Linked DNA regions of Homo sapiens. The main gene of each other region encodes a partner of the protein of the gene in region 2 in a complex. Each region holds a gene or a part of one and is shown on either strand. Other genes may lie near its edges.

The links. The genes of interacting proteins can lie anywhere in the genome.
Region 1: the proteins of SUMO1 (region 2) and RANBP2 are in contact, whole or in part, in a crystal structure (PDB 1Z5S), measured with the Homo sapiens proteins. Residues at the interface, in NP_001005781.1 of Homo sapiens: Asp30, Ser31, Ser32, Glu33, Ile34, His35, Phe36, Lys37, Val38, Lys39, Thr41, Thr42, His43, Lys46, Leu47, Ser50, Arg54; in NP_006258.3 of Homo sapiens: Asp2631, Val2632, Leu2633, Ile2634, Val2635, Tyr2636, Glu2637, Leu2638, Pro2654, Thr2656, Cys2659.

What each region holds. Positions count from the first base shown.
Region 1 is NC_000002.12:108,778,443-108,785,482, reverse strand, and holds part of RANBP2 (E3 SUMO-protein ligase RanBP2), read right to left. Parts: intron 4,215-7,040; coding exon 4,054-4,214; intron 3,356-4,053; coding exon 3,082-3,355; intron 2,956-3,081; coding exon 2,621-2,955; intron 1,888-2,620; coding exon 1,582-1,887; 3' UTR 1-1,581. UniProt on the Homo sapiens protein: E3 SUMO-protein ligase which facilitates SUMO1 and SUMO2 conjugation by UBE2I. Involved in transport factor (Ran-GTP, karyopherin)-mediated protein import via the F-G repeat-containing domain which acts as a docking site for substrates.
Region 2 is NC_000002.12:202,214,558-202,221,597, forward strand, and holds part of SUMO1 (small ubiquitin-related modifier 1 isoform a precursor), read right to left. Parts: intron 5,550-7,040; coding exon 5,475-5,549; intron 1-5,474. UniProt on the Homo sapiens protein: Ubiquitin-like protein that can be covalently attached to proteins as a monomer or a lysine-linked polymer.

The DNA of each region.
Region 1 (7,040 bases), about 93 Mb from region 2:
AAAGCACTTGCATTAACTTAAGAATTTATTCTAAAATCATGACGAAGGCATCAACTGTCTCAGCTGAAAAGTTACAACACACTTTACATCAGTTTATATTACATAGATTTCCAAATAAGCCAATTTGAAATATTTAGTGTAAACATATGTAATCCATGGTTCAAGACTGAACTGATACATTTGGAGTAGGTTTATTTCAAGTATCTGGCTTTGTGGCCGAGTGGAATGGTGATGGTATACCATCACTCATTACTCGCACAACATCCCTCCCCTCTTTTGACTGGTGGTTGAACAGTTACTTGCTTTAGGATACCCAATTTCCAAATCCCCATGTAACAGGGAATAAACCTGTCTTTCCTCACTAAATAAAATGAGGTAATTTCACCCGAAAGAACACAGATGGGTGGAAGACAGTCAATATTCATAATTGCAATATACAAAATTTTGTGTTCTACCTGGATTCTTTGTAGTTCCATATTGAGTAGGCCAATAAGAACATCCTCTTTTCTTTAGCAATTTGCCTAACATTTGATACAAGCCATTTCCAAATACGTTTTTGGTGTGTATCAAACTTGAGAAACTAGGAGCTCTGGAAATTATGCAGCAGTTTGAATTTACTGCCTTTAAATTGTCTTCCTTACTTTAGAATGAACCCGAAGCGTAAGTAATGAATTTTTTGGATGTCAGTGGCTCTTAGGAATTGTCATTTTATTTCTGCTACAAAATTTACCAGAAAAAGGTACTGCAACAATCTTGTATAAAGCAAATCTTTAACGAAAGAACATGGTATAGACTTTCTAAAAATATTCATACTTTATCACAATAACTACAAGGAAAAATTCAATTTCTATCATCAGAACCAAGCTGCAGTTTCTGAGGTAGTAGAGACAGATGACAGAAAAGTTTGAAACAAAACCCCTAAAGGAAATAGTCAACTTGTTTAAAATGTAAAAATTAATCGAATATCTATGAAAGGGCACAGGAAGCTAGATATTTTAAGGAAGGAAGGTACGCTACTTACAAAGTTAACTTGTAACCACACAGGAGGTGTAAAGATTCTAGAGAAGAGCACTTTGGTTAACTCTATACGTTCTGTGGCTCTACCCATTCATAAACGAGTCTCTATGCATAAATGAGTACACCAATAGTTAAGATTACCAAATATATTTCAAACCTAAAATTAAATTATCCAAGTTGTGGTCCCTTTATTCAAATGGTAAGTATATCCATGCAGGAAGTCCAAATATCTTAAAAGGAATTAAAATTAAATTGCATATATCATATTCCTTCAATAGTTTGAGGTCTATTGCTTTTAACAAGATTAGTATTATTCCATTTTAATACGTCAGGAGTACATAAACACAAGTACACCTGAAATACACCAGTGTTTAAACTTTTATTTCACACCATGCAAGGTCAATTATAACACATTAAAAAGTGACAACAGCTATAAGCTGCAATTTTACATTTGTAAATCGGAAACGTCCATTTTCAAAAGCTGAACATAACTATCAAATTGTAATAGCTAAGCTTCAATCCAACTGCTTATACAGATGAAATTTTCTATGAACAACAATGATTTTATATCTGTCCACATTCTGTGATAGTTATTCTTCGACAAACAGACCCTTTGGGAGAACCAAATGATTCAATCTTTTTCACAGTATCCATGCCATCCTTAACAAACCCAAATACTACATGCTTAAAGTCCAAATGTTCTGCTTTCTTCAGTGTTATAACAAATTGAGAATTATTGGTATTCTGGCCTTGATTGGCCATGGATAGTAAACCAGGACCAGTATGTTTCACATCAAAATTTTCATCTTCAAATTTGTCTCCATAAATGGACTGTCCGCCTGTTCCATCATGTTTGGTGATATCTCCTCCCTGAAAAAAAGATTTATAATAAAAAAGTTAAAAATTTTTTTCAATTAATAGGAATCCTGAGTAAAATATTAAAATACACACAGAACTCATCACTACATGTTAAATCCTAAAGCCCAGCTTTCCTGAGTATAGTTTGAAAACTAAGAAATTCATATTGTTGGAAAGAAGATGAAAAATGAAAAGGTTTTTCCCATCCCTTAGTTTCTACTAGATCTCAAGTACTGAAAATTTGATTTTTTTTTTTTTTTTTTTTTTTTTTTTTAATGACAGGCTGTCTCACTCTGTCGCCCAGGATGGAGTGCAGTGGTGCAAACCTAGCTCACTGCAGCCTTGGCCTCCTGGATGCTCCCACCTCAGCTTCCTTGTAGCTGGGATCACAGACGCACACCACCACACCTGGCTAATTTTTGTATTTTTTTGTCCAGACGAGATTTTTGCCATGTTACCCAGGCTGGTCTCAAATTCCGGGGCTCAAGCAATCTGCCTGCCTTGGCCTCCTAAAGTGCTGGAATTACAGGTATGAGTCATTGTGCCCAGCCTCAATTATTTTAGGTTGAAAGTTTTAGGCAGGAGCAGGGAATGGGTAGTGATGCCATGTGATTCCATGTGTGGAAAACCTAAAGAAATCTTTAACAAAACTACAGGATGAGGTCAAGGAAAAACACTCAAATTTCCCATTAGTGTGGTGCACTCTTCAAGACCTCAATTGTGGTATGTACTTAATAATACCTACTTGGCAAACAAAATCTGGAATTACTCTGTGAAAAATGGAATTCTTGAAACCAAAGCCTTTCTCTCCAGTGCATAGTGCTCTGAAGTTCTCAGCAGTCCGAGGAACAATGTTTGAAAATAATTCCATAGTTATCCGCCCTAGAGGTTCACCGTCCGCACAAACATCAAAAAACACCACAGGATTGGTCTCCTTTGATAATTCTGCTGCCAGTGATACATGTCCTTTCTGGAGTTTCATTAAATTCTGCTGACATTCTTCAAATGTTTTCTTGAAACAATCAGCTACTTCTTTAGTTTTAAATCTCACTGCAAGCTGTTCTACTTTTGCTTCTCCATCTGGCAGGGAGGGAAAGGGGAAGCAGTGACCTTAGTATTAAAATAACTGTTATAAGTTGTTTTGTTTGTTATAGATTTTAGAAAAGTCCAAAAAATGAAAAGTAGCATTTGAATGTAAAAACTCACCAGCATAATCTGAGGCAGTCCAAACTAAAGCATTATTTGAAACATTTAAGGGCTTTAATTCCATTGTTTTAGTAATAACGTGGTTTGCACACACTTTAAAAACCTGGTCTCTTCTCATTAGGATCCGGTAATAATTCTTCATTGTATGCCAAAGAATCTTTATATCTCCAACACCGCGCTCCTTCCACTGACTGACATCCCGATCCCATCTATAAAGTTTGGCTCTCTCTTTAAACAAAATTTCTTCATCTTCTTCTCCAGATTTTACTTCTACCTATAATAGGAGATGAAATTCTCTATAAGCTGCTGCTTATAATAAATTCCATGACAAATTTCAAAGATCCAAATTCTTTTAAGGCATTTTCTTTGTGATGACAAAGAGAATTTGTTAATGTGATAACTGGTTATATATCTTAGGGCTAGGAATATATCTGATTTGGCTGAGGGAGTAAAGACCTGATTTATCATTAAACATTTTCTTTTATATAATATTCATTTTCCCTTTGGAAATTAAATGCTTTTCTTTATAGGACAGAGAGGTTTCAAAAGTGTTTGCTACTGAAGAGAAATATTAGCTACTGACTGAGGTTAAAAAATGACAAAGTAATTTTCCTAGAACAATGTTCTTGTCCAAAAAACATACAAGGTTAACATTTATTGAAAGGACTTTAGTGAGTATGAGGTTAATTTTTCCCCAGAATCATGTTATAAAAACAAACATGATATTCTAGAAACATAAGAAAAAATTATTTCTTACCAATAATTACATATAGAATTTACAAACCAATATTTATGTAAAAACTGTAAAAAGATAATTTATACTTAAAGGCTAGACATCTAATAAATAGAGCTTCCATTTCAAACAGTAAACATTCTTAAATGCAAACAATTATACCCTGACAGATCAAGCCAGGGTAAAACTTAAAAATGAAAAATAAGTTATTAGTAAAAGGTTAATTCCTTAACATTTACCTCTGGTAGTGACACTATTGGTTCAAAATGGATATCTTCATTATGAACTACTTCTTCATCACTACCATCTTCATCTTCACCAACTTTACCGGCTGACTGGGTTCCGACTGACTGTGTTCCAAACACAGCTGCTCCAGTATTTGCCCATTGGAAATTTTTATCTGATGAATAAATCAGGATATTTAAACACTAGTATCTATTTTTTACATTTTTCATCCCCCTCTTATTTTATCAATCCCTCTAATTCCTGATGATGTAATATGTACATCAATTTTAAATGTTTAAAATTATATTATTCTAGTAAATTCCTCACGCCTGTAATCCCAGCACTTTGGGAGGCCGAGGTCACCTGAGGTCAGGGGTTCGAGACCAGCCTGGCCAACATGGTGAAACCCCATCTCTACTAATAATACAAAAATTAGGCTGGGCGCAGTGGCTCACGCCTGTAATCCCAGCACTTTGTGAGGCCGAGGTGAGCGCATCTCCTGAGGTCAGGAGTTCAAGACCAGCCTGACCAACATGGAGAAACCCCGTCTCTACTAAAAATACAAAATTAACCAGGCATGGTGGCATATGCCTGTAATCCCAGCTACTCGGGAGGCTGGGGCAGGAGAATCGCTTGAACCCAGGAGGCGGAGGTTGCGGTGAGCCAAGATGGCACCATTGCACTCCAGCCTGGGCAACAAGAGTGAAACTCCGTCTCAAAAAAAAAAAGAAAGAAAGAAAGAAAAGAAAAGCCGGGAGTGGTGGTATGCGCCTGTGGTCCCAGCTACTTGAGAGGCTGAGGCAGAAGAATCGCTTCAACCTGGGGGGCAGAAGTTGCAGTGAGCTGAGATTGCCCCACTGCACTCCAGCCTGGGCAACAGAGCAAGATTCTGTCTTTAAAAAAAAAAAAAAAAGTTAGCAGTGTGTGGTCATGGGTGACTGATCCCAGCTACTCAGGAGGCTGGGGCAGGAGAATCACTTTAACTTGAGAGGCAGAGGTTGCAGTGATCAGATACCGCCCCACTGCACTCCAGCCTGGACGACAGAGCAAGACTCTGTCTTTAAAAAAAAAAAAAAAAAAAAAATTAGCCGGGCGTGGTGGCGGGTGCCTGTAATCCCAGCTACTCAGGAAGCTAAGGCAGGAGAATCGCTTGAACTTGGGAGGCGGAGGTTGCAATGAGCAGAGATCGTGCCATTGTACTCCAGCCTGGGTGACAGAGCAAGACTCTGTCACCAAAAAAAAAAAGGAAAAAAAGGAAAAAAAAAAAAGCTAGTAAATTCAACTCATACTGTTGAGTACAGAGTACATTTATTATTGTTATGCTTAGCGATACAAAGATAAGACTGTCACTGCCTTGGATAAACTTCCTAATACTAAACTACACAAGGACTTCCAAGTAAAGAAGTAGGTTCTTTTTACCTACTTCTAAAATTTCAAGTACCCACCTTGAAATTTTGTAAACTTAGCTCAGCAGGCCAAACCTGCTACTTCCAAATTAGCCACAATGGCCTAAACATGTTTATAATTTCTGCATCTCTACTTCTTCCTGAAGAAGCTAATGCTGGAATGTAGATTTCTTGGTTGGGCTGGTGGAAAGCAGCCTTGGGAGAATCTCACTGACTTCAACTGCCCAAAGGGTATTAGATTGTTAAGCATCCTACTTCTGTATGGGGGAACAATGATGGTCTCACTCTCGCATACCTGCAAGAAGGTGAAAACTAGAAACTTCTCCATCCCATACCTCAATTTAGATGACCAAGTCCCCACTATCTTAGAGGAAAGAAACACCTCTCAACTTTTTATCACTTGCTGAATCACTGTCTTAAAGAACCCTACACCTTCTGCTAAAAACTCTCATGAAAAAGAAAAAATGTCACAGGATACATAACTCAGTACCTTAAAGAACACAATAAAAAATCAACTCTCTTTCAGACAGATTTAATGGAGGGGAAAAAAAAATGTTTTTAAAGAGGAGAGAGGGCCGGGTGTGGTGGCTCATGCCTGTAATCCCAGCACTTTAGGAGGCCGAGGCGGGCTGGTCACTTGAGGTCAGGAGTTCGAGACAAGCCTGGCCAACATGGCGAAACCCCATCTCTACTAAAAATACTAAAAGAATTAGCGGGGTGTTGCAGTGCATGCCTGTAATCCCAGCTACTCAGGAGGCTGAGGCAGGAGATCACTTGAACCTAGCAAGCAGAGGTTGCAGTAAACTGAGATCTGCGCCACTGCACTCCAGCCTGGGCAACAGAATGATCGTCTCAAAAAAAAGAGACAGAAAGACAAAAATTCTTAAGGACATATTGCAAAGGAATGATCTGAGAACAAAAGCCACAGGTTGCATGGGAACTTCCTGAGAACAGTAACCACTGATCTGGATGAGATACCAACTTGGGGGCTCAAAAATAACTGTTCAGGGCCAGGTGCAGTGGCTCATGCCTACAATCCCAGCACTGTGCAAGGCCAAGGTGGCAGGACTGCTTGAGCCCAGGAGTTTGAGACCAGCCTGGGTAACATAGTGAGACCCCTGTCTCTACAAAAAATGTAAAAATTAGCTAGGCATGGTGGTACACACCTGTGGTCCCAGCTACTTGGGAAGCTGAGGTGGAAGGATTGCTTTAGAGCCCAGGAGGTCAAGGCAGCAGTGAGCTGTGTTCATGCCACTGCACTCCAGCCTGGGCAACAGAGTGACATCCTGTCTCAAAAACAAAAACAAAAACAAAATTGTTCAGCAACTTTTTTGCCAAAAGCAAAAATTTAAAAAATAACCCCAAGGGACATGTGGCAGAAGAATTCAAAATTATTTCAAAATAGTGGTTCTCTACCCTGGGAACACATTAGAATCACCCACTTGTAAAAGTATTTGTAATATATCAATATCTGGGTCTCACAGGTCATAACTGGGCCTACAGTAATGTTACTGTAAGTGAATAATTAATTTGGCAAGCTTTGAGACATTAGAGAAAATAAGATTGAAACTCTAAATTATCTGGAAATTTACAAA
Region 2 (7,040 bases):
CCACCACAATATTCTTTTTAGCATTCTTAACAGGTTTTCTTAAAACAGTGTAATCATCCTCAAAGTTACTGTATACCCATTACAAAAGAAACCGAGTAAAACAAAGTTAATCAGTCTTGAGTGTTAAAATTATCAGTATAAGTAAAAGTCTAAGTAAATGCATTCCTTCATTTGCCATTCTATTGTCAAAATAAAAGATGAACTATCGCATCTTTTATTTATCCCAATAGCAACTCAAAACAAAAAGTCTGTCCCCCCAAGTGAAGTGTCACTGAAGGTGGTCGCCTAGGAGAAAAGCAGTTAATTAGATAATAATTAATTGTATAAAATTCAATTTTATACAATAAGCGACTGAGAAATTTATTCCTGCCATAAAAAATCACCACATGGGGCTGAGCGCAGTGGCTCATGCCTGTAATCCCAGCAATTTGGGAGACCAAGGCAGGCGGATCACAAGGTCAGGAGTTCAAGACCAGCCTGGCCAGTATAGTGAAACCCCGTCTCTACTAAAAATACAAAAATTAGCCAGGCATGGTGGCACACACCTGTAGTCCCAGCTACTCAGGAGGCTGAGGCAGAAGAATTGCTTGAACCCAGGAGGTGTAGGTTGCAGTGAGCCAAGAACACGCCACTGCACTCCAGCCTGGGAAACAGAACAGTACTCCATCTCAAAAAAAAAAAAAAAAAAAAAATCACCACATGGAATCTGGTTTCTCTCACATGAGTAAAATGAGTAAGAACCTGAGTTAGTCAAACTGATTTGTGAGACCAAAAATTATTTTATTCTGCTCAGATTGTGAAACAAACTATCAGCCAGCCAATCCTCAGAAAAAATACTGTTACTTGCATAATGTAAACTTTCAAAGCCAAACTTCATGACTACATATCACATTCACAAATGTGTATTTGCAGAAGCTGCACATTTACAGTATTTTTCTTGTGACTGTAACTATGAAGAAATAAAATTATCTTCACATAGATCATTTCATAAACAGATAAAATTCTACAGCAAACCTCATGCTATACATTAAAATCAATTCCAGGCTGGGCATGGTGGCTCATGCCTATAATCCCAACACTTTGGGAGGCCAAAGCAGGAGGATCATTTGAGTTCAGGAGTTCGAGACCAGCCTGACCAACATGGTGAACGCCATTTCTACTAAAAATACAAAAAAATTAGCCAGGCGTGGTGGCGCATGCCTGTAATCCCAGCTACTCGGGAGGGTGAGGCAGGAGAATCGCTTGAACCCAGGACGCGGAGGCTGCAGTGAACCTAGATCTCGCCACTGTACTCCAGCCTGGGCAACAGAGTGAGACGCCATCTCAAAAAAAAAAAAAAAAAATCACTTGCAGATGAATTAAAGAGCTAACATTAAAATTTTTTTGGCCAGGTGCAGTGGCTCACTCCTGTAATCCCAACACTTTGGGAGGTCAAGCCGGGCAGATCACGAGGTCAGGAGTTCAAGACCAGCCTGGCCAACATGATGAAACCCTATCTCTACTAAAAATATAAAAAATTAGCCGGGTGTGGTGACAGTTGCATGTAATCCCAACTACTCGGGAGGCTGAGGCAGGAGAAGTGCTTGAACCTGGGAGGCGGATGTTGCAGTGAGCCGGAAGTACCACTGCACTCCAGCCTGCATGACAGGACAAGGCTCCACATCAAAAAAAAAAAAAAAAAAATTCTCAATATTTTCCCCTCAAGGGAGAATTTTTTTCCCCTAATTTTGGCCTTGGGATGCCCTATTGCAAAGCATGATTTTAACCTAGAAACCATAAAAAAAAGAGGTGGATAAATTTGACTTAATAAAAACATAAAACGTCTGTATAGTAAAAGATGCCATAAACAAAAGTTAAGACATACTGGAGGAAATATTCATAACATGTAACAGACAAGGAAAATGAAGACAATATTTTTAAAAATCCCACAAATTAATAATTCTTAAAAAGACATTCCATGGCATATGGACATATAGATAGATCAATGGCATAAAATTGAGAGCCAAGAAAAAACCCTTATATCTATAGTCAATTTTTTGACAAGGATACCAGAACAATTCAGTGAGAAAAGGACAGTCTTTTCAACTAATGGTCTGGGACAAACACCCATAAAAAATTATTCAAAATGATGAAAGATTTAAATGTAAGAGCTAAAACTATAAATAAAACCATAAAACTTTTTTTTTTTTTTTTTTGAGACAGGGTCTCACTCTGTCACCCAGACTGGAGTACAGTCACGTGATCACAGCTTACTGCAGCCTTGACCTCCCAGGCTCAAGTGATTCTCCCTGCTCAGCCTCCTGAGTAGCTGGGACTACAGGCATGTGCCACCACGCCCTACTAATTTTTTATATTTTTTGTAGAGATGGGGTTTCGCCATGTTGCCCAGGCTGGTCTCCAGCTCCTGAGCTCAAGCAATCTGCCCACCTTGGCCTCCCAAAATGCTGAGATTACAGGTGTGAGCCATTGTGCCCAGCCTTAAAACTCTTAAACCACAAGCGTAAACCTTTGTGACCCTGGATTAGGTAATGGTTTCTTAGATAAATTACAAGCAACAAAAGAAAAAACAGATGAACTTAATTTACCAAAATTAAAAACTTTACGCTGCAAAGAATAAAACCAAGAAAGTGAAAAGACAACTCAAAGATAGGAGAAAATCCATGCAAATCATATATATGATAAAGGTCTAATACCCAGAATAAAAGACATATTACCACTCAACAATAAAAAGACAACTAACCCAATTTAAAAATGGGCAAAAGATCTAAAGAACTTCATTTTTCCAAAGAAGATGTACTAATGGCCAATAAGTACATAAAAAAATGCTTGGCATCATTAGCCATCAGGAAAGAGCAAGTTGAAACCACAGTGAGATACCACTTCACACCCACTAGGATTATAACCAAAAATACGGATAATTACAAGTGTTGACCAGAATATGGAAAAACTGAAACCCTCATATGTTGCTGCTAGGAATGTAAGATGGTAGGGCCACTGCTGAAAACAGTTTGGCAGTTCCTCAAAAAGTAAAACATATAGTTGCATACTAGACCCAGCAATTCCACTCCTAGGTATATATCCAAGGGAGCTGAAAACATATGTCCATACAAAAACACACATGAATGTTCACAGCAACATTATTAATAGTAGCCAAAATATGGGGACAAACTAAATATCAACTGATAAATGGAAAACAAAATATATTCTACCCATATAATGGAACAGAATTCAGCCATTAAAAGGAATATAGTACTGATACATGCTACAGCATGAATGAACCTTGAAAACATGCTAAAACAAAGAAGCCAGGCCAGGCATAGTGGCTCACACCTATAATCCCAGAACTTTAGGCCAAAGAGGGAGAATCACTTAAGCCCAAGAGTTCAAGACCAGCCTGAGCAACATAGCGAGAACCCTGGAGAGGGAGACGGGGATGGGGAGGGGGGGAGGGGAGGGAGGGGAAGAGGAACAGGGAAGCAAGGCAGAAAAGAAGAAACAAACCAGAATAAAAAGTCACATATCAAAGCTAGGCATGGTGGCTCATGCCTGTAATCCCAACACTGTGGGAGGCCGAGGTAGGCGGATCATCTGAGGTCAGGAGTTTGAGACCAGCCTGGCCAACATGGCGAAACCCCATCTCTACTAAAAATACAAAAATTAGCTGGGCATGGTGGTGCACACCTGAAATCCCAGCTACTCAGGAGGCTATGGCAGGAGGGTCGCTTGAACCCAGGAGGTTGAGGTCGCAGTGAGTTGAGATCAGGCCACTGCACTCCAGCCTGGGTGACACAGCGAGACCCTTGCCTCAAAAAAAAAAAAAAAAAAAAAAAGCCATATATCTTATGATTCCATTTATATGTAATGTCCACAAAAGGCAAACCTATAGAGACAGAAAGTAGAATCATGGTTGTCACTGGCTGGAGGAAATAGGATGGGGAATGACTGCTAATGGGTACAGGGTGTCTTTTTGGGGTAATGCAAATGTTCTGGAATTAGTAGTGGTGATGGCTGCACACACTTGTGAATAATACTAAAGCCCCTGAATTATATACTTTAAAATAGTGAATTTTATAGTATGTGAATTTTATCTTTTAAAAGTTTTCAAAATAAAGCCGGCATGGTGGCTCACACCTGTAATCCCAGAACTCTGGGAGGCCGAGACGGGTGGGGATCACCTGAGGTCAGGAGTTCGAGACCAGCCTGGCCAACATGGGGAAACCCCGTCTCTACTAAAAATATTTTTTAAAAAAATTAGTCAGGCTTCGTGGCAGGCACCTGTAGTCCCAGCTACTCGGGAGGCTGAGGCAGGAGAATCACCTGAACCCAGGAGTGAAGGGTGCAGTGAGCCAAGATCACGCCATTGCACTCCAGCCTGCCAACAAGAGCACAACTCCATTTCAAAATAAAATTTAAATTTAAAAAATTTTGAAAATAAAAAATAAAAGTCTTCAAAATAAGATAATCACAGAAAAATGGGAAAAGGGTATGAACACAATTAACAGAAGAATATAAATGTAACAGACCAAAAAAATTATACCTTATTAATAATCAGGTAAATGAAAAATAAACAAAAATGTTTTACCTAGCATATTTGAACAAAATTTAAAGACTGTTAATATCCCATGTTTGGGAGAATATAGGGAAATGGTACTGTCACACTTCAATAGAAATACCACTGCACTCCATCCTGGGCGAGTCCACCCTTCCACCAATTCTCTGTCTTTTGTCCTTTAGAAAACCCACGTAACTATGTAGATTCATTCCTCCAACGGTTGTTAGCTAACCTTAATTAACATTTCAGAATCAATAAGATACAGACTAGAGCCAGGCGCGGTGGCTCACGCCTGTAATCCCAGCACTTTGGGAGGCCGAGGCTGGCGGATCACGAGGCCAGGAGATCAAGACCACCCTGGCTAACACAGTGAAACCCCGTCTCTACTAAAAATACAAAAAAAATTAGCCGGGCATGGTGGCGGGCGCCTGTAGTCCCAGCTACTTGGGAGGCTGAGGCAGGAGAATGGCGTGAACCCGGCAGGCGGAGCTTGCAGTGAGCCGAGATCGCACCACTGCACTCCAGCCTGGGTGACAGAACAAGACTCCATCTCAAAAAAAAAAAAGATACAGACTAGAGTCTAGGGAAATAGGGGGCCAGAAAAGGGTCAGGAAAAGGGCTGATAAACCTTTTACTTAAGGTTGGCCCTAGCCTTAACACTTAATAGTATTCACTGTATTTGCCCCTGAAGCACACTAACCAAGAAAACATTCCTATTTGGAAAAATTAAGATGATCTAAAACTGCCTGGCAGAGTAATTTAAAAAACAGTATCGGCCTCTTCTACCTCTAACAGATGCATACACAGTAAATTAAAATGCATACATAGTCATTTTAAAATAATTTGCCTTAAATAATTTTTTTTCCTGTGAAAAAGTATTCACATTGAAGGGGACTCAAAAGAGAAAAACAATGAAACTCACCTGTCCAATGACTTTGAGTTTAATATATTCACCTTCCTTCTTATCCCCCAAGTCCTCAGTTGAAGGTTTTGCCTCCTGAAAGAAAATTAAATTTCAAGATAAAAGTTCCTACATGCTATTTTAATTACTCACTTATGAGTATCCATTACTTTCATTCAGGATGCAAAATCTGCACCTGAGAATACAAACAGCATTTCTTTTCCATGCCAGTCAATTAAGAAAAAAAAATCCTAAGTCAATTACTGTCCCAAACGCCATTCACTAGAAATCAAGAAAGGGGTCTCTTTTATTATAATACCCCATAGTAATGGTCTAAAACTTTACCACGCATCAAAATCAGCTGAAGGACGTGTTAAACAAACTGCTGGGCCCAAGACCCAGTTTCTTATTCAGCACATTTGTAGTAGGGATAAGAATCTCTTTCTAACAAATTACCAGGTGGTACCGATACTACTGGCCAGAGGAACAACTTGGAAACAACTGCCCTACAGCCAGCTCTTACCAGCACAAAGGAAGTTCATCCTCCATGAATTTTTAGACAAACTTCTGAATCCAAGATTATCTTCTCACAGCCTATCATGAGGAGTTTACTTTAACTACAAAACTGTACTAAGAAATGTAAATTAATCATATTAGCATAAGCAAGGCTATTATTTATTATTTTTTTGAGACAGTTTCGCTCTTGTTGCCCAGGCTGGAGTGCAATGGCTCGATCTCAGCTCACCGCAACCTCTGCCTCCCAGGTTCAAGCAATTCTCCTGCCTCAGACTCCCGAGTAGCTGGGACTACAGGCATGCACCACCATACCCGGCTAATTTTGTATTTTTAGTAGAGACAGGGTTTCTCCATGTTGGTCAGGCTGGTCTCAAACTCCCGACCTCAGGTGATCTGCCCACCTCGGCCTCCCAAAGTGCTGGGATTACAGGCGTGAGCCACAGTGCCCAGCCAAGCAAGGCTATTTAGAAAGGAAAATCAAATAAGAAAGTATTAGCCTAATGTACTCTGGAGTCAAAACGAATCAGTTTTATATAATCAATTATTTTAGACTATCCGAAGCATAATGCTTAAGTTTAAAAGAGGAGACAAAAATAGGAGGACAAGATACTTGAGAGGCTGTGGCACTAGGACTGCTTGAGAGCCCAGGAGTTGGAGGCCAGCCTGGACAACATAGCAAGACCTCATCTCTTCAAAAAAAAAAAAAAAAAGATCACAAAAACAGTTACAAAACAATTTCCAATAAAGAGATACTGAAATGAAAATGAGGTTAACAGAATAAATTAGTTAAAACAACTTCACCATGAAGTATCTCAAGAATAAGCAAATCATTTTTAGTAAAGGGGGTACCTTGGAAAATTTCATGAATAATGTGGTAAAAAAGTAGCTTTTTTTCTCTATGTGCTACACCTTAGTTTGGCCACCAAATTACCCACTTATTTAGATATATACCTTATTATCCGTAATAATTTCAAGCAGTTAATCCGTATTTGATAAGAATAACCATAACCATTACCTGTGTATCTCATGCCAGTAACTTAAAATACAAAATTCTTTAACATTCAACAATTA